Linked DNA regions of Homo sapiens: region 2 is linked to region 1. Evidence: fine-mapped expression QTL. Tissue or cell type: nucleus accumbens. Region 1 holds a variant in brackets; the other region holds the start of a gene. All regions are shown on one strand. Distances are between the middles of the regions.

Region 1 (8,103 bases):
CTTGAACCTGGTAGGCAGAGGTTGCAGTGAGCCACTGCACTCCAGCCTGGGTGACAGAGCGAGACGCTGACTCAAAAAAAAAAAGAAATTAGCTGGGCATGGTGGCGGCCGCCTGTAATCCCAGCTGCTCAAGAGGCTGAGGCTAGAGAATCTCTTGAACCTAGGAGGCAGAGGTTGCAGTGAGCCAAGATTCTGCCACTACACTCCAGCCTGGGTGACAAGAGCAAAACTCCATCTCAAAAAAAATATATTTTATATCAGAACTAAATGTAAACATAAAACTATCAGATACTGGCTTACACCTGTAATCTCAACACTTGGGGAGGCCAAGGCTGCCGGATCACGATGTCAGGAGATGGAGACCATCCTGGCTAACACGGTGAAACCCCGTCTCTACTAAAAATACAAAAAATTAGCCGGGAGTGGTGGCACGTGTCTGTAGTCCCAGCTACTCGGGAGGCTGAGGCAGGAGAATCACTTGACCCTGGAAGATGGAGATTGCAGTGAGCCAAGATCACACCACTGCACTCCAGCCTGGGCGACAGAGCGAGACTCCATCTCAAAAAACAAACAAACAACAACAACAAAAAACTGTGAGTTAGTAGAAAATATAAGGAAATATTTAACCTAAGGGTTAAAAGACTTTCTTAAGAAAAACAGAAACCTAAAAATTATCAAGGAAAATACCAACAGATTTAACTACATAAAAATGTAAAATTTCAGAATGACAGAAGACACTTTAAAGAAAGTTTAAAGAGTCCAGGCACAGTGGCTCATGCCTATAATCCCAGCACTTTGGGAGACCAAGGCAGGAGCATCGCTTGAGTCCAGGAGTTCAAGACCAGCCTGAGCAACATAGCAAGACTCTGTCTGTACAAAAATTAAAGAATTAACTGGGTGTAGGCTGGGTGCAGTGGCTCACGCCTGTAATGCCAGCACTTGGGAGGTTGAGGCGGGCAGATCACCTGAGGTCAGAAGTTCAAGACCAGCCTGGCTAACACGGTGAAACCCCATCTCTACTAAAAATACAAAAAATTAGCCGGGTGTAGTGGCACGTGCCTGTAGTCCCAGCTACTTGGGAGCCTGAGGCAGGAGAATCGCTTGAACCCGGGAGGCAAAGGTTGCAGTGAGTTGAGATTGCACCATAGCACTCCAGCCTGAGCCTAGGCGACAGAACAAGACTCCGTCTCAAAAAAAAAAAAAAAAGAATTAACTGGGTATAATGACACATGCCTGTAGTCCCAGCTACTAGAAAGGCTGAGGTAGGAGGATTGCTTGAGCCTGAGAGGTTGAGGATGCAGTGAACCATGATCAGGCCACTGCACTCAGCCTAGGCAACACAGTGAGACCCTGTCTCAAGAAAAAAGTTTAAAGATATTATGGCTCAGCTAGGCACAGTGGCTCATGCCTGTAATCCCAGCACTTTGGGAGGCCAAAGCTGGTGGATCACTTTAAGTCAGGAGTTCAATACCAGCCTGGGCAACATGGTAAAACCCTGTCTCTACTAAAAATACAAAAAAAAAAAAAATTATCTGAGCATGGTGGCACGCGCCTGTAATCCCAGCTACTCAGGAAGCTGAGGCAGAAGAATCTCTTGAGCCCAGGAAGCGGAGGATGCAGTGAGCTGACATTGTGCCATTGCACTCCAGCCTAGGCGACAGAGAATAAGACTCTGTCTCAAAAAAAAAAAAAAAAAAAAAAAAAAAATTATGGCTAGGAGAAAATATGTGCAACAGGTAAGACAGGTAAAATGCCAATAAGTTATGACCAACCAAGAAAAAGGTCTAATATTCACCCCTAAGCATGGGGAAAATTGACACATTAATTTAAAATTAAATGCAAAATAGGATATTCAGCTTCTCTCAGAGAAATGCTAAACAATGAGAAATCATTTTCTACCCATCATATTGAAGAAAAGGTAAGAGATTAATTGTGATATTGGCAAGGAAGTGAAGGAACAGGCACGTTCATGCATTTACTGATAGAAGCATAACTGGCTCTAACCTTTCAAGAAAGTAATTTGGTGGTATCTTTTTTTGTGATGGAGTCTCCCTTTGTTGCCTAGGCTGGAGTACAGTGGCACGATCTTGGCTCACTGCAAACTCTGCTTCCTGGGTTCAAGCGATTCTCCTGCCTCAGCCTCTCCAAGTAGCTGGGATTACAGGTGCATGCCACCACGCCCAGATAATTTTTTTTTTTTTTTGTATTTTTAGTAGAGACGAGGTTTCACCATGTTGGCCAGGCTGGTCTCAAACTCTGTTTTTTTGTTTTGTTTTGTTTTTTTGAAATGAAGTCTAGCTCTGTCACCCAGGCTGGAGTGCAGTGGCGTGATCTCGGCTCATTGCAACCTCCACCTCCCAGGTTCAAGCAATTCTCATGCCTCAGCCTCCCCAGTAGCTGGGATTACAGGCACCCGCCTCCATGCCCAGCTAATTTTTATATTTTTAGTAGAGACGGGGTTTCACTGTGTTGACCAGGCTGGTCTCGAACTCCTGACCTCATGATCCGCCTGCCTCAGCCTCCCAAAGTGCTGGGATTACAAGAGTGAGCCACCATGCCTGGCCAGGTCTCAAACTCTTGACCTCAGGAGATCCACCTGCCTCAGCCTCCCAAAGTGCTGGGATTACGGCATGAGCCACTGCACCTGGCCTGGTGGTATCTTAAAATTTTTAAATATGTGCACTTTTTTTTGTTGTTGTTGTTGCAGGAGGAGGGTCTTGCTCTGTCGCCCAGGCTGGAGTGCAGTAGCAAGATCACTGCTCACTACAGCCTCAACCTCCCTGGCTCAAGTGATCCTCCCACCTCAGCCTCCTGAGTACCTGGGAAGACAGGCAGGCACCACCATGCCCGGCTAATTTTTTTTTATTTTTCGTAGATACAGAGCCTTGCTATGTTGCTCAGGCTGGTCTCAAACTCCTGGCCTCAAGCAATCCTACCACCCCGACCTCCCAAAGCCCTGAGATTATAGGCATGAACCACTGTACCTGGCCATGTGCACCATTTGATACAGCAATTGATTGCTCTTTAGGCATCTATCTGCCAGAAATAAAATTACCTAAATTCTAATGTTATTTTCTGCTTGTATTAGTAAAAACTGAAAATGGCCATCAATAGCAAATATAGGCTGAGTATCACTTATTCCAAATGCTTGGGAAATAAGTATTTAAAATTTCAGATATTTTTTCAGATTTTGGCATATTTTCATGCCTAATTCAAAAATTCAAAAATCAAAATGCTCAGGGACCATTTCCTTTGAGCATTATGTTTCTAATTTGGGG[T/GT]TTTTTTCAGATTAGGGATACTCAACCTATAGTTAAATGAATTGTAACATCTACTTATTGTGGATTTTTTTTTTTTTTTTTTTTTTTTTTTGAGATGGAGTCTCGCCCTGTTGCCCAGGTTGGAGTGCAGTAGTGCAATCTCAGCTCACTGCCACCTCCAACTCCCGGATTCAAGTGATTTTCCTGCCTCAGCTCCTGAATAGCAGGGACTACAGGCACGCATCACCATGCCTGGCTAATTTTTGTACTTTTAGTAAAGACAGGGTATCCCTATTTTGGCCAGGCTGGTTTTGAACTCCTGACCTCAGGTGATCCGGCCCATCTCAGCCTCCCAAAAGTGCTGGGATTACAGGTGTGGGCAACTGCACCCAGCCTATTGTGGAATATTAAGTATATTTTAACAAATGAGACATCTTCCCGTATGTCCTACAGGGATGTCCATGGTAATAAGTGGAGGAGGGGTAGAGATGGAAGAGGGAATAAAACTATGGAGGAATGTATTATGGCGTGATCCCATTTTTGTCACTTTTTTGGAGGAAAAACCCTAAATATGTGTGTACAGGTGTATATACGGTTGAAAGAGCATAGAAAAATCTGTGGAAAAATATACATGTAACCTACACAAGCATATTACAACCAGCATGATTAGTTTTGAAATAAAGTTTTCAGCCAGTCACGGTAGCTCATGCCTGCAATCCCAGCACTTTGGGAGGCAGAGGTAGGCGGATCACCTGAGGTCAGGAGTTCGAGACCAGCCTGGCCAATGTGGTGAAACCTCATCTCTACTGAAAATATAAAAATTAGGCCAGGCGCAGTGGCTCATGCCTATAATCCCATCCTTCTGGGATGCCAAGGCTGGTGGATCACTTGAGGACAGGAGTTCAAGACCAGCCTCGCCAACATGGTGAAACCCCATATCCACTAAAACACAAAAAATCAGCTGGATGTGGTGGTGGGCACCTGTAATCCCACGTACTTGGGAGGCTGAGGCAGGAGAATCACTTGAACCAGGGAGGTGGAGGTTGCAGTGAGCCAAGTTTGCACCATCGCACTCCAGCCTGGGCAACAAGGGCGAAACTAGCGAAATCTGTCTCAAAAAAAAAAAAAAATACAAAAATTAGCTGGGCATGGTGGTGGTGCCACCTGTAATCCCAGCTACTCAGGAGGCTGAGGCAGGAGAATCGCTTGAGCCTGAAAGGCAGAGGTTGCAGTGAGACGAGAGCACGCCACTGCACTCCAACCTAGGTGACAGAGTGAGACTCTGTCTCTAAATAAATAAATAAATAAAGTTTTCAAAAGCATATGAAAATACCAATTTAATAAGCTTTTTGGAAAATTTAAAGTGAAACTGCACTTTTATTCTCATTCAGATTCACTTTCAAAGATCTCTTCTGCCCTGCCCTTTAGAAATTGTGAGAGGCTTCCCTGGGTCTTGGAAGTTGAGATCTTGAACTTTTTCCCTAGCATGACCAGTGCTGTTGCCAAAATGCCAGGGGTTTGGTGTAGGTCCTGCCGCTTGCTGCACAGAAAGCCAATCAGTAGTGCCAGGGAAGAAGGCTTTAATTGGGTGCTCCAGCCAAGGAGATGGGAGATCAGTTTCAAATTTGTCTCCCTGACCAACTAAAATTAGAGGTTTATATAGGAAGGAAGAAATGTAACTACATGCAGTAAAACAGGAATTAGGGAGGGGTAAGGAAGAGGAGTTGATCAACAGGCAGCAGGTGGTCTGTTAGGCCATTATGACAGATGAGGGGTTCTGCATCTCATTGTCCAAATGCAGTGATCTGGTAAGTTTCAGTTCCTTGATACCATCTGGGAGGCTTGATGGTTGATTTCCTGAGAAAGGAACTCAGATAAGGCAAATGTCACTTTCTCAAATTTCAAGACTGGAAAGGTCAATTTGTTTCTCTTTTTGCTTTTGCTTTTGTTTTGTTTTGAGACAGGGTCTCACTATGTTGCCCAGGCTGAAGTGCAGTGGCTATTCACAGGCGTGATGCCACTACTCATCAGCACAGGAGTTTTGACCTGCTCAGTCTCCGACCTGAACTGGTTAACCCCTCCTTAAGCAACCTGGTGGTCCCCCACTCCCAGGAAGTTGATGCTAAACTTAGTGCAGACACCTGATTGGCATAGCGCACTACAGCCCAGAACTCCTGGGCTCAAAGGATCCTCCCGCCTCAGCCTCCCAAGTAGCTGGGAATACCAGCACACTCCACCACACCAGGCTAGAAGTGTCAATTTCTATGTTTATTCAAAAGAAACCATAAACATCTGCTCTATGAAAGAACTGAGTCAGTTTCAGTACCTTAGCAGGTGACACAGACTCTGTTGTGAGAACGGAAAGCCCAGGAAAGAATTGTAGATTACTGGTTTCAAGCTGTCTTATACCTACCTCAGGCACTAGGAGGCATGGAGAGTTTGCAAGGAAGTGATGAGGAGATTTAAAAAGAAAAGGCAGAAGAGATGGAGAGTGGATGGAAAGCTCCCAATAAAGAGAGGCTGGCCAGGCGCGTTGGCTCATGCCTATAATCCCAGCATTTTGGAAGGCTGAGGCAGGCGGATCACCCAAGGTCAGGAGTTCGAGGCCAGCCTGGCCAAAATGGTGAAATCCCTTCTCTACTAAAAATACAAAAAATTAGCTGGGAGTGGTGGTAGGTACCTGTAATCCCAACTACTAGGGAGACTGAGGCAGGAGAATCACATGAACCCAGGAGGCACAGGTTGCAGTGAGCCGAGATCGCACCACTGCACTCCAGCCTGAGTGACAGAGTGAGACGAGAGAGAGAGAGAATAGGAATGTTTTGAGCAGAGCAGTTACTTCTTGCTGCAGTTCCTTTTCCCCAGAACAGTCAAAATGTGCTGGCCCTTACTTTTCTTCACGTCCCTCTCCTCCTAGGCTGGGATCCAGGAGCCCCAGGACTTGGTGCCACTAAAATAACTGCCGCATTTTTTTTTCCTTGAGTTTCATGGCATGGATCACAGATTTCAGCTTTGAATCTTTGAATGTTTTGAATGTTTCAGCTTTCAAATGTTTTGCTTTTCTCCAAATAGCCTAAGCTATAGTGAACCATAGAAGGGCAATGAGCAAGCCATCATACCCAAACATTTCTAAATCAATCCATTTTCCATCATGACTCAGTACATGTATACATCTGTAACAGAGTGCAGTGGTGCAATCATAGCTCTCTGCAGCCTAGAACTCTTAGGTTCAATCAATCCTCCTGCCTCAGCCTCCAGAGTTGCTGGAACTACAGGCTTGTGCCACCACGCCTAGCTAATTATTTTAACTTTTTGTAGGGACAGGGTCTTCCTATGTTGCCCAAACTTAATCTACTATTTTGTTTGTTTGTTTGAGACAGAGTCTCGCTCTGTTGCCCAGGCTGGAGTGCAGTGGGGCAATCTCTCCTCACTGCAATCTCCGCCTCCTGGGTTCAAGTGATTCTCCTGCCTCAGCTTCCCAAGTAGCTGGGATTACAGGCGCCCCCTACCATGCCCAGCTAAATTTTTTTTTTTTATTAGAGACGGGGTTTCATCACAGTGGCCACGCTGGTCTCGAACCCTTGAACCCAGGTGATCCACCTGCCTCAGCCTCCCAAAGTGCTAGGATTACAGGCGTGAGCCACTGTGCATGGCCTTAATCTACTATTTTTTGTGGCAATAATTAGATGCTTAATTCTCTAAGTAAAAATTAAATCCAATTCCAAGGTTTGCAAAGCATACTAAGTATACCCAAACATCTTCAGAGAAACTATGCTGAGCAATTTCTTTACCGTATTTTGCCCAAACACAGTAATGAATACAGCTGAATATTCCCTGCATGTTTTGCTAATTTCATACTTTCCGTCAGTACACAGAACATGGCAACTGTGTGTCTCAAGTGTTTTTCAGACATCGTCTGACTTACCGTAACTGTCTGCATAGTAGACCTGGTATTATGCATCTTACACAGATGGAGAATTTGAAGTTAAATACGGGCCCAGGTGCACAATTACATTTCAGGGCCCAGAATTTAGGTATAAATGTTGGACTTAAAGAGTGCTGTTTTATTTTTAGAACACTAATTCAGTAAATAAAGCAGCAGACATGGGCTTATGATTCATTCACCTTATTTGTGAAAAGAAAAGCCTAATAACCTCAGCTTCTTTGTCAAGTGGTTTAGCAAGTCACATCAAGAGAAAAGGAAAGCGCTGGGTGCGGTGGCTCATGCCTATAATCCCAGCACTTGGGAGGCTGAGGCAGGCATATCACTTGAGGTGAGGAGTTCGAGACCAGCCTTGCCAACATGGTGAAATGCCATCTCTACTAAAAATACAAAAATTAGCCGGGCGTGGTGGTGGGCACCTGTAATCCCAGCTACTTGGGAGGCTGAGGCAGGAGAATCGCTTGAACCTGAGAGGTGGAGGTTGGCGTGAGCCAAGATTTTATCACTGCACTCCAACCTCGGTAACAAAGCAAGACTCGGTCTCAATTAAAAAAAAAAAAAAAGGAAAGGAAGCTGGGAAAAAATGCAATGAGACTAAAAGTTACTAAAAAATAGCCCAAACCTTTAACAAAAGAAGCTTTGAGGCCAGGCGGTGGCTCAGGCCTGTAATCCCAGCAAGTTGGGAGGCCAAGGCAGGCGGATCACTTGAGGTCAGGAGTTCGAGACCAGCCTGACCAACATGGAGAAACCCTGTCTCTACCAAAAATACAAAATTAGCTGGGCATGGTGGCGCATGCCTGTAATTCCAGCTACTCGGGAGGCTGAGGCAGGAGAATTGCTTGAACCCGTGAGACGGAGGTTGCGGTGAGCTGAGATCACGCCATTGCACTCCAGCCTGGGCCA
Region 2 (8,103 bases), 870 kb after region 1:
TGGTATACGCAGGGGGTCCCAGAACCAATCCCCCAAAGACGCTGAGAGATGACTATATTTATGAAGCTAATAAAGTATTGTTATATTACTTTATTGAACAAGTATTTGCTGAATGCCTACTGTGTGCCAGATGCAATGCTAAGCACTAGGTGAACAGACACTGGTCCCCACCCTCCAAACAAGTAAACATACATTTATTATTGCAACTTGTAATTATTTGAGGGAAAGTAAATCAAGGTACTATGAAAGACAAAAAGAACTTATGTTAGTTAGACTTACTGAAGACGAAAGGCAACTTTGAAAAGGGACACAACCTTCAAGAACAGGTGGCCAGGTGTGGTGGCTCACGCCTGTAATCCCAGCACTTTGGGAGGCTGAGGCAGGCAAATCACCTGAGGTCAGGAATTCAAGACCAGTCTGGCCAACATGGAAACCCCGTCTCTACTAAAAATACATAAATTAGCTGGGCGTGGTGGCACACGCCTGTAATCCCAGCTACTTGGTAGGCTGAGGCAGGAGAATCTTGAACCCTGGAGGCACAGGTTGCAGTGAGCTGACATTGCGCCACTGTACTACAGCCTGGGTGACAGAGCAAGACTCCATCTCAAAAGCGAACTAAAAAAAGAACAATAAAAAGAAGAGAACAGGACGAGGGCGAGGAGGAAAGTATACCAGACAGAGGGTACCACAACGCAATGGTCCTCAGGAAGTGCTTAGAAGGTTAGAGGAGAAGGAAATACCTGTCAGTGGAAAGTGTGTGTCTGGGAGGTTGGGAGAGTGGCAAGTGGTAAGGCTGGGGAGTAGGTGAGGTTTTACAGGGTCTTGCAGGTCCTGGTAAGAGATGGAGATTTTCTCTAAGTACAATGGAAAGTCAATGAAGGGTTTTACCCAGGAGCGACATGTTCCAATCATTACTTAAGATCACTCCAGTTGCCATGTGGAGAACAGAATGGAGGCTGGGGAAGAGTGAACACTCAAAGGCTATTGCTTAATCCAGCCCAGAGGTGATGGACTACAAAGCTAACATTGGAGATGGTGAAAAGTAACTGCATTCAAAATATATTCTAGGGTGGAAACAACAGGACCACTGATGGACTGGATTTAGGGAGTGAAGAGAGAGGGCTAGATTTTTGGTCTATGCAATTGGATAGATGATGAGAAGAAGGTTAGAAACATACCTTTGAGAACCATCAGCACATAGATGGGTGAAATGACAGAGTGTGGAGAGAAAGGGTCCCAGGACTGAGCCCTAAGATACCACTCAACACTTAGACATCAAGCAAGAGAGGAACGGGACCCAGGGAAGGACACTGAAGTAGTCCTTGATGTAGGAGGAAATACGCAAAGGAACATACATCACAAGAAAAGGAAAGTTTCTAGAGTTTCTGTATTAACCACTGCTGAGAGATCAAGAAAGTTGAGGCCAGAAAATCAACCTCTGAATTTGACAAGATGGAGGGATCAGGTTTTTTTTTTTTTTTTTTTTGAGACAGTCTTGCCCTGTCACCTAGGCTGGAGTGCAGTGGCACAATTTGGTTCACTGCAACCCCTGCCTCCCGAGTTCAAGCGATTCTCCTGCCTCAGCCTCCTGAGTTACTGGGATTACAGGCGCCCACCACTACACCCAGTTAATTTTTGTATTTTTAGTAGAGAGGAGGTTATGCCATGTTGGCCAGGCTGGTCTCAAACTCCTGACCTCAGGGGATTCGCCCACTTCGGCCTCCTAAAGTGCTGCGATTATAGGCATGAGCCACCACGCCCCGCTGGTTCAGGTAATCTTAACAGTCATTCCCGTAGACCAGTGAGGATGAAAGCCCAACAGAATGGCTGAGAGAATGAGGGGCTAATCAGCACTTTCAAGAAGTTTTGTTGGGATGGGAAGCAGAAATGGAGTAAGAGGGGGACATGTATGTGGGGACGGAGGATTTTCTAAGATGAATTCTCTAAAGCAGGGTTGTATGCTCACAGGAAATGCTCTAGTAAAGAGGGAAAAATTAGTAATGATGGCTTGGACTAGAGTAAATTATATGAATAGTTTTTTAGGTTGCAGATGAAATCCCATCAGTGGGTTGCAAAATTAATTCAGTGGTTCAATTTTTTTTTTTTTTTTTTTTTAAGACAGAGCCTTACACTGTCACTCTGGCAGGAGTGTAGTGGCTCTATCTCAGCTCATTGCAGCCTCCTGGGATCAAGTGATCCTCCCATCTCAGCCTCGTAAGTAGCTGAGACTACAGGCATGAACCACCACACCCAGCTAACTTCTTAATTTTTTGCAGAGACAGGGTCTCCCTATGTTGCCCAGGCTGGTCTCCACCTCCCAGGTTCAAGTGATCCTTCTGCCTAAGCTTCCCAAAGTGCTGGGATTGCTGGTGTGAGCCACCACGGTTGGCCCCATTCATATTAATAAAAAATAGACAATATGAGAGTGTACGCCACACATTATTGTTTCATGAGCCTTTCATTTCAGTTACACAGACATATTGTGTTTAAAAAAAAATCGGAAGAGGCCAGGTGAAGTGGCTCACGCCTGCAATCCCAGGACTTTGGGAGTACAAAGCAGGAGGATCACTTGAGCTCAGGAGCTGGAGACCAGCCTGGGCTGTAGTGAGACCCTGCATCTACAAAACTTTTTTTAAAAAATTAGCGGTGAGTGATGGCGTGGGCCTGTAGTCCCAGCTACTGAAGAGGCTGAAGCAGGATTGCTTGAGTCCAGAAAGTGAGGCTGCAGTGAACCATGATTACACCCCGCCTGGGGGACAGAGCAAGACCCTGTTTCTTAAGAAAAAACAATTAATTAAAAATGTAAAAATGTGAAATGCCATAGTACATATAACCATTAAACATGAGGCAAAAGAACATAAAGGAAACTGTATCAAATAATCAGTTCAAAGAGAACACAAGATAGTAATACCTACAAATTAATATCAACCGTATAAAGCCCACATTCAGAGTAGATGCAAAATCTTCCATTTGCACCAGGCGCAACGAGCAAGCATGGAAAAGACCACGTGGAGTTAAACTGTCAGAAAATCTTTTACCCTCGCCTTGCACACACACCCACACACCCCCTGCTGTTTCTCTGGTCCCAGTCCTGGTTCACGTCCTTCCCTTCTCCACCCCAAAACCAGCCCCTTCCCTCACAGTGTTTACTGCTCCCATCAAATTCCGAGGGCAGCTCTTCCGAGGGCTCTCCAGGGGCCTACAGCTGCAAGCAGAGCTCTACCCGGCCCTGATTCGTCTCTCCTCCACCTACTTTCAGGGCGGACAGACTCAGGCCTTTATAGCCTTCTAAGTCCGGGGTCGGATACCAGACTGGGCTCCACCCCCGCACTGTGACCCAGAAACGCTGGTAAACGAATGAGAGAAGGAGGGGGCACATTGAAAGGCAGCCGGACACGGAAGTGCTCGGCCCCGCACCAGACACGGCGTGGAGGGGAAGCGAAGGTTCGGAAGGGCAAAGCGAGAGTCCCGTTCGTCCCCGTCACCACCCCGCGGCCCTCCCGGACAGGGCCGGCCCGCTGCCCTCACTCCCGTACGAGGGTCGCCCAGTCCCCACGGCTCTCGGCTCTCAGCTCTCAGCGGTCAAACCGTTGGGCTCCTCGGGCGAAAAGGGACGCGCCCGAGAAGACTTACACTTCCATGACGTCCCGCCTCGTCGCCCCTAGCTGCCAGCAGACAAAGAACCTCACACTTCACAGCTGTCTCCGCCGCCACCAACAGCGCCAAGGTGCCAGCTCCGCGCGCCAAGGTGCTCGCCGGGATCGCCGCGCTGCATGCCGGGAGCTTGGCGGACCCGGAACCTCGCGCTGCGCGTTCCCCTTTTTCGGGGGGCAGGGTGGGGGAGTGTCCCTGCATCCTTCCACCAGGCCGATTTAAGACTGCTAAGCGTTTGCGGACAGGATTATCTTGTGTTTTCTTTTCTTTTTTTCTTTAACCTTTTTTTTTTTTTGAGACGGAGTCTCGCTCTGTCGCCCAGGCTGGATCTCGGCTTACTGCAACCTCCGCCTCCTGGGTTCAAGCGATTCTCCTTCTGCCTCAGCCTCCCAAGTAGCTGGGACTACAGGCGCTTGCCACCAAGCCCGGCTAATTTTTTGTGTTTTTAGTAGAGACGGGGTTTCACCGTGTTAGCCAGGATGGTTTCAATCTCCTGACCTCGTGATCCGCCCGCCTCGGCCTCCCAAAGTCCTGGGATTACAGGCGTGAGGCACCGTGCCCAGCCTCTTTTTTTCTTTTTTGAGACAGAGTCTCGCTCTGTCACCCAGGCTGGAGTGCAGTGGCACGATCTCGGCTCACTGCAATCTCTGCCTCCCAGGTTCAAGCAATTCCCTGCCTCAGCCTCCCGAGTAGCTGGGATTACAGGCGCCCGCCATAACGCCTAGCTAATTTGTGTATTTTTTAGTAGAGACGGGGTTTCATCATCTTGGCCAGGCTAGTCTTGAACTCCTGACCTCGTGATCCACCCGCTTCGGCCTCCCAAAGTGTTGGGATTACAGGCGTGAGCCACCTCGCCGGGCTCTGTCTGTTTTCGTGGTCTAGGTTTTAACAAAGTATTAATCAGCTGAAGTTGTGAGACGTGATCGGGTTAGTGGGCCTTTGCATGTTAAAATCCCACCTCTCAGAGAGTAGTGAGGCTGGTGGCATCTGGGCTGCCAGAAACATTGCAGTTTATTTATTTATTTTTTAAGAGACAGGGTCTTGCTCTGTCGCCCAGGCTGGAATGCAGTGGTGCAATCAGAGCTCACTGCAGCCTTGAACTCCTGGGCTCAAGCAATCCTCCCACCCCAGCCTGCCAGAGTAGCTGGGACCACAGGTGCGCTCCGCTACACCTGGCTAATTTTCTTTTTTTCTTTTTCTTTTTCTTTTTTTTTTTTTTTGAGATCAGTCTCACTCTGTTGCCCAGGCTGGAGTGCAGTGTCGTGATCTCGGCTCATTGCAACCTCTGCCTCCTGGATTCAAGCAGTTCCCTGCCTCAGCCTCCCCAGTAGCTAGGATTACAGGTGCCCGCCATAATGCCCAGCTAATTTTTGTATTTTTTTAGTAGAGACGGGGTTTCACCATCTTGGCCAAGCTGGTCTTGAACTCCTGACCTTGTGATCCACCCTCATCAGCCTCCCAAAGTGTTGGGATTACAGGCGTGAGCCACTGCACCCAGCCACCTGGCTAATTTTCTAAAATAAAATTCTTTATTGTCCAAAGAGTCAGCTACAAAATTTTTTAATTTTTTTGTAGAGATGGGGGTCTCACTGTGTTGCCCAGGCTGGTCTTGAACTCCTCGCCTCAAGTGATCCTCCCACCTCCAACTCCCAAAGTGCTGGGATTACAGGTGTGAACCACCACAATAGCCTCTGTTGCCTACTTTGTAAATAATAAGGGTGTTAAATAATCCTTATAAAGTTCCTGGCACTTTATTAATTACTGTGGCAATACAACCATGACTCTCTATGAGGTACATTGCATTATTATTGACATTTTATAATTGAAGAAACTGAGGCAGACTTGGAGAGATTATGATTTACCAAAAGTCACTCATCTAGGAAGTTGTCCAGTGGGTATTGAACCCCAGCCAATCTGAACATATACAACAGATGCATTAACTAGAGACTGATGAGTGGATGAATAAAATGTGCTACATTTGTGCAATGGAAAACTACTTAAAAAGGAGGCTGGCCGGGCACGGTGGCTCACGCCTGTAATCCCAGCACTTTGGGAGGCCGAGGCGGGCAGATCACGATGTCAGGAGATCGAGACCATCCTGGCTAACAGGGTGAAACCCCGTCTCTACTAAAAATACAAAAAAAATTAGCCGGGCGTGGTGGTGGGCGCCTGTAGTCCCAGCTACTAGGGAGGCTGAGGCAGGAGAATGGCGTGAACCCAGAAGGCAGAGCTTGCAGTGAGCCAAGATCGTGCCACTGCACTCCAGCCTGGAAGACAGGGCAAGACTCTGTCTCAAAAATATAAAAATAAAAAGGAGGCCAGGCTTGATCTCAGCACTTTGGGGAGCAGAGGCAGGAGGATTTCTTGAGACAAGGAGTTCCAGAGCAGCCTGGGCAACATAGCTAGACCCCCTAACTACGAAAAGTTAGCCAGGTGTGGTGGTGAGCACCTCTAGTCCCAGCTACTGGGGAGGCTGAGGTAGGAGAATCGCTTGAGCCAGAAGGTAGAGGCTGCAGGGAACTATGATCACACCACTGCACTCCAGCCTACAGAGTGAGAGACCTTGTTGCAAAAAATATATATAGACAGACTGATAGATAAATGCTGCAAGATGGATAACCTCCCAAAACATGATGCTATTAATAAGTGAAAGAAGCCAGACACAAAATAATATATATTGCCTGGCCAGGTGGCTCACGCCTGTAATCCCAGCACTTTGGGTGGCTGAGGTGGGTGGATCATCTGAGATCAGGAGTTCAAGACCAGCCTGGCTAACATGGGGAAACCCTGTCTCTACCGAAAATACAAAAATCGCCAGGCGTGGTGGCTCACGCCTGTAATCCCAGCACTTTAGGAGACTGAGGCAGGCAGATCATGAGGTCAGTAGTTCGAGACCAGCCTAGCCAACATGGTGAAACCCCGTCTCTACTAAAAATACAAAAAGTAGCTGGGTGTGGTGGGGGGCACCTGTAATCCCAGCTACTCGGGAGACTGAGGCAGGAAAATTGCTTGAACCCAGGAGGCGGAGGTTGCAGTGAGCCGAGATCACGCCACTGCACTCCAGCCTGGGTGACAGAATGAGACTCCTTCTAGAAAAAAAAAAAAAAGAATACATATGGTATGATTCACTTTATATAGAATGTCCAAGAAGAGGCCAATCTATGGATACAGACAGAAGGCTAGGTTGGGGGCAAGGATGGGAAGTGATTGCTAATAAGTAGGGAGTTTCTCTTTGGGAAACAGAAATTGTCTAAAATTATTATAGATGGTGGTGGTGGTTGCACAACCCTGTGAATATACTGAAGACACTGAGTTGTATACTTTAAATGGCATATTGTACAGCATATTAATCCTATATTAATAAAGCTGTTAAACATTTTTTACTCTGCTGAGTGTGGTGGTCCACACCTGTAATCCCAGCACTTTGGAAGATGAAGGCAGGTGGATCGCTTGAGCCCAGTTTGAGACCAGCATGGGCAACATGGTGAAACCTCATCTTTACCAAAAAAATAGAAATTAACCAGCTTGATGGCTCGTGCCTGTAATCGTAGCTACTCAGGAGGCTGAGGCAGGAGCATCGTCTGAATCTGGGAGGCGGAGGTTGCAGATCACGCCACTGCACTCCAGCCTGGGTGACAGAGCAAGACTCCATCGCAAAATAACGACAACAAAAAAGTCATAAAATGCCACCCAGACCCAGCTGGCCTAGTTAGTGTGGAGAATTCCCTGTACCTTCGCTGAGGAGATTGGGCCCCACAAAGAAATGCTAAAGATGCCCCTTGTGTTATTCACTCAACAAGTATGTAGCCATGGCCCATCGGGGGCTGATGATACAAATGTGACTAACACACACCCTCTGCACTGGCTAGCTGACAGCCTAGTTGAGGAACCAGCTCTGGACATAAATAACCACAATGCATTGTGTTTCGACGCGATGGGCAGGGGAGGGAATGACTAATGAGGTGGAGAGGCGTCCCAAAGCCACGGGCCTTTGAAGTGGGTGAGGGAAAAGCACACGAGGCCGAGGGATTGGGTATGGGCTTCAGTGAAAAACAGCAGTGCCTCTGACAGCCCCCATGATAAAATGGCTCAGGTGTGACTTAGAGTAGGGAGTTAGCTGGGTGTTCGAATGATACCCGGTAGGCCAGGTGCGGTGGCTCATGCCTGTCATCCCATCATTTCGGGAGGCCAAGGCGGGTGGATCACTTGAGTCCAAGAGTTCAAGACCAGCCTGGCCAACATGGTGAAACCTCATCTCTACTGAAAATACAAAAATTAGCCGGGCATGGTGGCAGGCGCCTGTAATCCCAGCTACTCAGGAGACTGAGGTAGGAGAACCACTTGAGCCCGGGAAGCGGAGGTTGCAGTGAGCCGAGTAAACATTCTTTTTACTGTCTGCACCTCTGGTCCTGGATAGTCGCTGATCACCATGACAATTAAGGGTATGGA

Direction of the effects. Alleles are on the strand shown, and positions count from the first base shown. SD is a standard deviation of normalised expression in the study named.
In carriers of allele T in region 1, the expression in nucleus accumbens of the gene that starts at base 3,757 in region 2 tends to be higher than with GT alone (moderate effect, 0.66 SD a copy in GTEx).

Evidence for each region. PIP is the estimated chance that this variant, and not a neighbour inherited with it, causes the effect.
Region 2: CRCP starts here. The variant in region 1 is fine-mapped to the expression of CRCP in nucleus accumbens (GTEx, PIP above 0.99).

The regions. Positions count from the first base shown.
Region 1 is chr7:66,977,521-66,985,623 of GRCh38, reverse strand. It overlaps the pseudogene RN7SL43P. Among named protein-coding and RNA genes, the nearest start is that of SBDS, 14 kb to the left of the region's middle. The variant T/GT (reference allele first, on the strand shown) is at 3,279.
Region 2 is chr7:66,110,501-66,118,603 of GRCh38, reverse strand. It overlaps CRCP (CGRP receptor component), which reads right to left and starts at 3,757. Exons shown (of 6, transcript NM_014478.5): 1 at 3,634-3,757. The coding sequence starts at 3,641. RefSeq lists silencers at 2,968-3,262, 4,691-4,881 and enhancers at 2,849-3,377, 3,915-4,044.